Linked DNA regions of Homo sapiens: all the other regions are linked to region 3. Evidence: fine-mapped expression QTL. A gene starts in region 3. Each other region holds a variant in brackets. All regions are shown on one strand. Distances are from middle to middle. Region 1 overlaps TFCP2 (transcription factor CP2). Region 2 overlaps BIN2 (bridging integrator 2). Region 3 holds the start of BIN2 (bridging integrator 2).

Region 1 (2,759 bases), 160 kb after region 3:
TATTTATTCATTAGAGTTGAGGTCTTGCTTTGTCGCCAAGGCTGGAGTGTAGTGGCTCAATCACAGCTCACTGCTGCCTCGAATTCCTGAGCTCAAGCAGTCCTCCCAAGTAGCTGTCCCCTAGGCTGGAGTGCACCTGGGGGTACAGTCATGAGATACCATGTCTGGCTGATTTTTAAATGTTTTGCAGAGACAGGGTCTCCCTATGTTGACCAGGCTGTTCTGGAACTCCTGGGCTCAAACAGTTCTTCCCCCTTGGCCTCCCAAAGTGCCGGGATTATAGGTGTGAGCCACTGTGCCCAGCCCTGATTTTTATTTTTTTTTAATTTTAATTTTGTCTTATTATTTATGTTTTTGGAGGCGACATCTCACTCTTGTCACCCAAGCTAGAGTGCAGTGGCGTGATTGTAGCTCATTGCAGCCTCAAACTCCTGGGCTCAAGTGATCTTCCTGCTGCAGCCTCCTGACTGGCTAGGACTACAGGGTCACACCACCACACCTGGCCAGTTTTTCTACTTTTTGTAGAGACTAGATCTTGCTGTGTTGCTCAGGCTGATCTCTAACTCCCGACCTTAAGAGATCCTCCCACCTTGGCCTCCCAAATTGCTGTAATTACACATGTCAGCCGCGGTTCCCAGGCCTATTTCTCCTTTTAATAAGACCTTGGATCTTAGTGTGCCACCCTCCAGCAATAATCTTTGCCAACTGGTTCTAAGAGTCAATCAGGCCAGGCATGGTGGTGCACACCTGTAATCCCAGCACTTTGGGAGGCTGAGGCAGGCAGATCACCTTGAGGTCAGGAGTTCAAGACCAGCCTGGCCAACATGGTAAAACCCTGTCTCTACTGAAAATACAAAAATTAGCTGGGCATGATGGTGCACACCTGTAATCTCAGCTACTCGGGAGGCTGAGGCAAGAGAATGACTTAAACCTGGGAGGCGGAGGTTGCAGTGAGCCAAGATCGAGCCACTGCACTCCAGCCTAGGGGACAAAAGCGAGACTGTCTCAAAAAAAAAAAATGTCAATCAGTCTGACGTTCTACATCTTTATTAGGGAAAATACTCTCTTTGACAAGCAATTTGTTTTATAAAATATCTTCTCTGACACATTTGTTTTACCCTAGTTTATTTTCTGTTGCATCTTATGATGGTTTCATCTTCAAATCTATTAATTTGTATTTTATAAAGAGTCATCTTAATTAGATTTATTTAATCCTTATTAGTGGTCCTTTTATTATTCTTTTTTTCTTATATTTTTATTGTGGCACAAACTTTATACTAAAAGGAAAAGGAGATTCATTGTGAATACATGATAAGTGAAGGAGCCAGTCACAAAAGACCACATACATATGATTCCATTTCTATGACATTTCTAGAATGGGCAGATCTGTAGAGAAAATA[A/G]ATTAGTGGTTGACTAGAACTATGGAGGAGGAGGGAATGGAGAGGGACTACTAGTGGGAATGGAGTTTCTTTTCAGGGTGTTAAAAATGTTCTAAAATTGTTTGTGATGATGGTTATGATATCAAACTAGGTTCGTCCTGCCCACGTGCAGCAAGCCAATCACTATGATGATGGGTTTTGCAAAAGAGACAAGATTTTATTCATAGGGCTGCTGAATGAGGAGACAGGAGAGCAAATCCCAAATCTGGCACCCTGAAAATAGGGCTTGGCAGTATTTGTGGGGTAGGACGCAGGGTGGTCTAAAGCATGGGGAAAGGTGATTGGCAGGTAGGAAAGGTGAGGTAATCAAGGTTTCTGCACAAGCGTAATTGAGCTACATTGCTCTTCATAGGCCATGTGCAGAAAATGGCAGTGTTAACATGATCTAAGTGTGGAGTTTTTGTCCCTCTGACATGAAAAGGTCACTTTTTGGGCACTCATGCAGGTCCAGTTGAGGGATTGGTGGTCTCAACTGGGTAAGAGCTGTCCCCTAATTCCTGAAAAACAACTTTAAGCATCTGTTAATATAGTGACCCACAGTCAGAGATGTCATCTTTTTTTTCTTTCCTTTTTTTTTCTTTTGAGGCAGGGTCATGCTATGTTGCCCAGGCTGTTCACAGATGTTAACTTTTATTTATTTATTATTTATTATTATTATTATTTTTTGAGATGGAGTTTTCGATCTTGTTGCCCAGGCTGGAGTGCAATGGCATGGTCTCAGCTCACTGCAACTGCCTCCCAGCTTCAAGCGATTCTCCTGCCTCAGCCTCCCAAGTAGCTGGGATTACAGGCACATACCACCACACCCAGCTAATTTTTGTATTTTTAGTAGAGACGGGGTTTCACCATGTTAGCCAGGCTGGTCTCAAACTCCTGACCTCAGGTGATCCACCTGCCTTGGCCTCCCAAAGTGCTGGGATTACAGATGTGAGCCACCATGCCTGGCCAACTTCTTTGTTTGTTTGTTTGAGATGGGGTCTCACTCTGTTGCCCAGGCTGGAGTGCAGTGGCATGTTCATGGCTCACTGCAGCTTCGAACTCCCGGGGATCAAGCAGTCCTGCCTCAGCCTCCTGAGTAGCTGGGACTACAGGCATGTGCCACCATGCCCTACTCAGAGTTTTTCATAAATGCCGTTTTAGTGTTAAATAAGTTTCCTTCTATTCCTAGTTTGCTGAATATGTGTGTATGTGTGTGTTTATTGTGGTAAAATACACATAACATAAAATTCTATCATTTTAACCCTTTAAAAATGTCCAGATCAGTGTAATTAAGTACATTTACGTTGTTGTACAACTGTCACCATGATCTGTCTTCAGAAC
Region 2 (2,717 bases), 44 kb after region 3:
ACACAATCATGTTTACTTTCCAGGTATCCACAAGTGAAAATCCACAACTCTGAAGAGAAACTACCAAGACTCCTCCTGCCCCAAACCTCGCCAGAGAAGCTCTTCAACCAGAGGGTATAGGTCAGAGGGATATAAGAGCCAGCATCCATCCCTGGGTTCTCAGTAGGAATGCTGGTGCTGTCTAAAGACCTGGCATTAATGGAGGCGGAGGAGCAGCCTTACGGGAGGGATGGAGGGAGGCAGGCTGGGGAGAAGAGAACATTAGACTCAGGGAATATTTAATTCTGGTTTTAGCATTATTAGAATAAGACTTTATACATTAACTAAAGTGGAGCTTTAATCACTATAAAAAGCAAAAGTATCTATAGACACAGACACTTGCCTATACAGAGACATAACCACACACACTCAGAGGATAGTGAACAAATCTGTCTTTGACTTACGACCCATTTTGCAAGACTTAAAGCCGGAAGAACACATTTTCAGATTGTTAAATAAAGTCTGATTCTGACTATCTGTGGATTGTTTATTTGACAAAGGGCATTGTTGCAACCCAGCACACTGTTTTCCACTTAGGTATGGTTATTGATTCTGCCCCAGGTTCAGAAAGGTTTAGTCACATCCCTGACCCCCAGCTCACCCTAACTCCTGACTGTAATTCTTTTATGATACCAAGGGCCACAGACTCTTCTCCTTAATCCTGCATGTGCTCCCCACTCCCCACTTTGGTTGATAAACAGATACACTTGGAAAGGGGTAATAACATTTTAGAGCTATATCTGGTGTTTACAATTTAGTACTTGGTATGAGTAAGGGTCTGAGCACAAGAGAGGAAGATATGAAACTGAAAGGATACAAAGTATAATAATAACAATCATATCGGCTGGGTGCGGTGGCTCACAGCTATAATCCCAGCACTTTGGGAGGCCGAGGCCGGTGGATCGCCTGAGGTTGGGAGTTCGAGACCAGCCTGACCGACATGGAGAAACCCTGTCTCTACTAAAAAAATACAAAAGCAGCCGGGCGTGGTGGTGCATACCTGTAATCGCAGCAACTCGGGAGGCTGAGGCGGGAGAATCGTTTGAACCCAGGAGGCGGAGGTTGCAGTGAGCCAAGATTGTGCCATTGCACTCCAGCCTGGGGAACAAGAGTGAAACTGTCTCAAAAAAAAAAAATCCTATCCTAGAAATGGCATGAAATTTGGAGTCAGAAGTCCTGGATTCTTTTGGGAGGCCAACAGGGGAAGACTGCTTGAGCCCAGGAGTTGGAGACTAGCCTGGGCAAGATGATGAGACCTCTATCTCTTATTTTTAAAAAAAATTTTAAAGGGCTGGATGTGGTGGCTCACACCTTTAATCCCAGCACTTTGGGAGGCTGAGGCGGGAGGATAAC[C/G]TGAGCCCAGGAGTTTTACACCAGCCTAGGCAACATAGACCCCCATCTCTACAAAAAATTTAAAAACTAGGCCAGGCACGGTAGAGCGCACCTATACTCCCAGCCACTTAGGAGGCTGAGGAGGGAGGGTCACTCCAGCCTGGGAGGTTGAGTCTGCAAGGAGCAACGATCATACCACTGCATGCCAACCTGAGTGACAGAGGGAGACTCTGTCTTAAAAAGAAAAAGAAAAAAAAAAAAAAAGGCCGGGCACGGTGGCTTACACCTGTAATCCCAGCACTTTGGGAGGCCGAGGCAGGTGTATCACAAGGTCAAGAGTTCAAGACCAGCCTGGCCAACATGGTGAAACCCCGTCTCTACTAAAAATACAAAAATTAGCCAGGCGTGGTAGCGCACACCTGTAGTCCCAGCTACTCAGGAAGCTGAGGCAGGAGTATTGCTTGAACCTGGGAGGCAGAGGTTGCAGTGAGCCAAGATTGCGCAGCCTGGGTGACAAAGCAAGACACTGTCTCAAAAAAAAAGAAAAAATTAAAAAAGGAAGTCTTGGATTCAAGTCCTATCATTACTTTATATGAAAATATTTGTGACATTTTCAAAATAGCTCTGAAGTCCTGCCAACTTGATAAATGCCACATAAATGCCAAAACCTTTCCATCCTTGCTCTTGTTTTTAGAGGTGATGATATCACCATTCGTTCAGTCATTCTGCAAGCATTTACTGAGCATCAACCGTCTACCAAGCACTGAGTACCAGTACTAGGAACCAGGGAAACAATGATGAGGGGTGTTAAAAATAAGATATTTAACGAGACAGAATATTGAGCAAGGAGCAGAATGGGCAAGATTTAGTGACGGGCTAGAAGGGCACACATGATGAAAAGTGAGGTGTTTTTCTTTTGTTTTGTTTTGTTTTGTTTGAGATGGAGTCTTGCTCTGTTGCCCAGGCTGGAGTGCAATGGTGCAATCTCGGCTCACTGCAACCTCCGCCTCCCTGGTTCAAGTGATTCCCTAAGCCTCCAAGTAGCTGGGATTACAGGCACACACCACCACGCCCTGCTAACTGTATTTTTAGTAGAGATGGGGTTTCACCATGTTGGCCAGGCTGATCTCGAACTCCTGACCTCAGGTGATCCACCTGCCACGGCCTCCCAAAGTGCTAGGATTACAGGTGTGAGCCATCGCCTGGCCAGGAATTATTCTAAGTTAGGCTTGAGAGACTAGAACTTGGTGGTGTCTTTCCTTTTAACAATGACTGCAGAAAGAAGTATATTTATGTGGGTTCTCTGGTTGCAAGCGACAAACTGACAAAATTAAGCAATAAACGAT
Region 3 (2,719 bases):
GTGGTGCCCGGCCAGACTTCATTAAGCATCTTAAGGTCAGGGACTGCATTTTATTCATCCTTGTTTCAGAACACCCAGCAATGCCTGGTACACAGTTGACCTTGAGTGCAGTAATGATTGTTTTGGAGAAAGAAGAGGAACACAGTAGCATACAAGGGCCTCTAATTTTGTGTCAGGCCCTATCTTCCCCCTCCACTCCTTAGGAAGTGTTATTTTGACCTTCTTCCCTGCCTTGAGGAAATTTTAACCTGCACTGTAAAATCTGAGTACGTGGTTCCTCCACACCTAGTGTCCTAATCTCAAGCTATCCCCTCAAACAGGTCAGGGAGGAATTTTTTGGAGAACTTCTCCCTAAAGAAACAATAGTTGTCATCTCAACAGCCGCACCCCAATTTGCACAATCTGTGTCTGTGTTCACATTCTGCCTCCATCCAGTACACTGTACTCCAACTAGAAAAACTTGCTCCTCATGCTCAGCACGGGCGTCCATACTATCCTCCTCAGCCTTTTTTCAATGTGATCATTCTCTTGCCTAAGAACCAGCCCCCTACCCTGTTTCTATCTCCAGCTTAGTTGTTCCTCATTTATTTATTTATTTATTTATTTATTTATTTATTTATTTGAGACGAACTGTCGCTCTGTCGCCCAGGCTGGAATGCAGTGGCGCGATTTCGGCTCACTGCAACCTCTGCCTCCCGGGTTCAAACAATTCTCCTGCGTCATCCTCTCGAGTAGCTGGGACTGCAGGCGTGCGCCACCACACCCAGCTAATTTTTGTATTTTTAGTAGCGACGCGGTTTCACCGTATTGGTCAGGCTGATCTCCTAACCTCAGGCGATCCACCCGCCTCGGCCTCCCAAAGTGCTAGGATTACAGGCGTGAGCCACCGCGCCCGGCCTGTTTCTCTCTTTCAAGCCCGGCTCGGGTGTCCTGCCTGCTTTCTGCACTCTATCCCTACCAGTTCCAGGCTTAGAGCCTACCTGGAGCAAGAAACGCAGTGTACATGGCGGCTTCGCATGCATACTCAGAGAACCTAAACGTGTTTTCGATATGGTAGGTCCTCTCGCTGAGTGGAACCCACATCATTTTCTACCCTGCGGTGGCAGTTGCTTTGCAGTGCTCAGCGTGATGGGAACTGGCTTTCCGGAGCGAGTGAGTGTGGGCCCACCACTGAGGACCTGGTTCAGTGAGGCCGAGGTTTCGGGCAGGGGTTGGAGCTCGGAAGCTGGCCTCGAGCGAGCGCTGCCTGAGGGTAGGCCCCGGGCCCGCCCCTCCGAGCCGGCCTGCTCCAGCTGACAGTGGTGGGCTGAGGGGCGGGCCTCAGGGCTGGCCAGGGGCGGCCTGAGGTGGCTCAGGGCTGGGGCCGGATGCGAGGCATGCCGGGAGCCCGCACTTCCTCCTCGGGGGCCTCAGAAAACCACAGGGCGCGGGGCCAGGGCGGCGGCCCCCAGGGAGTTGGCAGGATGGCAGAGGGCAAGGCAGGCGGCGCGGCCGGCCTCTTCGCCAAGCAGGTGCAGAAGAAGTTTAGCAGGGCCCAGGAGAAGGTAGGTGGCCGGGCCTCGCTGTCTGTCTGGCCCACAGGGAGCCGAGGCCGAGGCCGAGCCCGGCCGGGCAGGAGGGGCGGGCAGGGTGCTCAGGGGCCCCGAAGGGTCTGGGCTGACGAGAAGGGTCTCCCGCTCTCCCAGGGAAACGGGAGCGAGGAGTGGGCTTCCATGAAAACTGGCAGATTGGAGAGAGGTCGGAGACCGCCACCCGATCTTGGGCAAGGATAAGGGAAGCTGGGGAGACAACAGTCTCTGGGCAGAACCTTCGACAACCCTCAGGCTGACCCAGAAAAGGTGAAAGAAAGGAAGTGATGGTGGTGGCCACCTTTGTATCAAATTTTGTGCTAGCAATCCAAAATTGGTATTTTACAGATGATGAAATTGGAGGGTAATTTTCCATAGAGGGCAATTTCCCCAAAAACAGCGATGCAGCGGATGCCAGCAGGCACCCCCCACCAAAGGCTTAGAATAATCCTGCATAGTTCTCCCCCTACCTGACCCTGCCTGGCCTCTGGGTGGTGTTTCAGCTGACGTAAGCAGGAGCCCAAATCTGCTTCTTCTACCCTCCCTTTGGCGTTGGGGAGTACACCTCCCAGGGTGATGAACCACATCTGTGTTCAGAGTGTGTCCTTGGTTAGTGTCAGGTAGCCCTGCTCCAGCACTGGCACTTAGGTGGGCTGCCCATCTATTACTTGCTTGGCAATCTAAATTGTGGGGACATTCTCTACACATTTTGATGGCATTTTTGTTTCTACCTGTACAGAATATTTTCTTTGCTTCTAACCTGAGCCTCTGCTCTCCACCTACCAACCCTCTAGTAGACAAGGCGGTTTGGGAAGACATGTCAGCCAGAAGAAAGAGCGAGGGAAGAAAGACAAGAAGGACCTGAGATAGAGTTTCGGTTTTCCTTTTTTTCTCTCTCTCTTTATTAAGCCCAACCTGCCTTCTACAACGGAGAAGTTTTGGTTTTCTAAGAGCTGATGGACTTAGAAGCATTTGGATGAACAGCTCTGCTTACCAACTGAAATATCCCTATTATCTTCTAAAAGTGGAGCACTGCTTTGAGCCCTGGGAAGGCTTAAAGGCAACCAGCTCTCCCGAGTTGATTTATCAGCAGAAAACTGATGGAATGTAGATGTAGCTCCTGACTTTAAGAGACCACAATGGAAGGGAGG

The links. PIP is the estimated chance that this variant, and not a neighbour inherited with it, causes the effect.
Region 1: its variant is fine-mapped to the expression of BIN2 in whole blood (TOPMed, PIP 0.96).
Region 2: its variant is fine-mapped to the expression of BIN2 in whole blood (TOPMed, PIP 0.98).

The regions. Positions count from the first base shown.
Region 1 is chr12:51,165,660-51,168,418 of GRCh38, reverse strand. The region is part of intron 1 of TFCP2 (transcription factor CP2); the gene reads left to right. Among named protein-coding and RNA genes, the nearest start is that of TFCP2, 6.1 kb to the left of the region's middle. The variant A/G (reference allele first, on the strand shown) is at 1,401.
Region 2 is chr12:51,278,835-51,281,551 of GRCh38, reverse strand. BIN2 (bridging integrator 2) reads left to right here. Exons shown (of 13, transcript NM_016293.4): 13 at 24-514. The coding sequence ends at 53. Among named protein-coding and RNA genes, the nearest start is that of SMAGP, 9.8 kb to the right of the region's middle. The variant C/G (reference allele first, on the strand shown) is at 1,393.
Region 3 is chr12:51,322,847-51,325,565 of GRCh38, reverse strand. It overlaps BIN2 (bridging integrator 2), which reads left to right and starts at 1,392. Exons shown (of 13, transcript NM_016293.4): 1 at 1,392-1,544. The coding sequence starts at 1,464. It overlaps LOC105369767 (a long non-coding RNA gene), which reads left to right and starts at 1,558. Exons shown (of 2, transcript XR_944957.3): 1 at 1,558-1,838; 2 at 2,363-2,719. RefSeq lists a silencer at 1,157-1,646 and an enhancer at 1,677-1,866.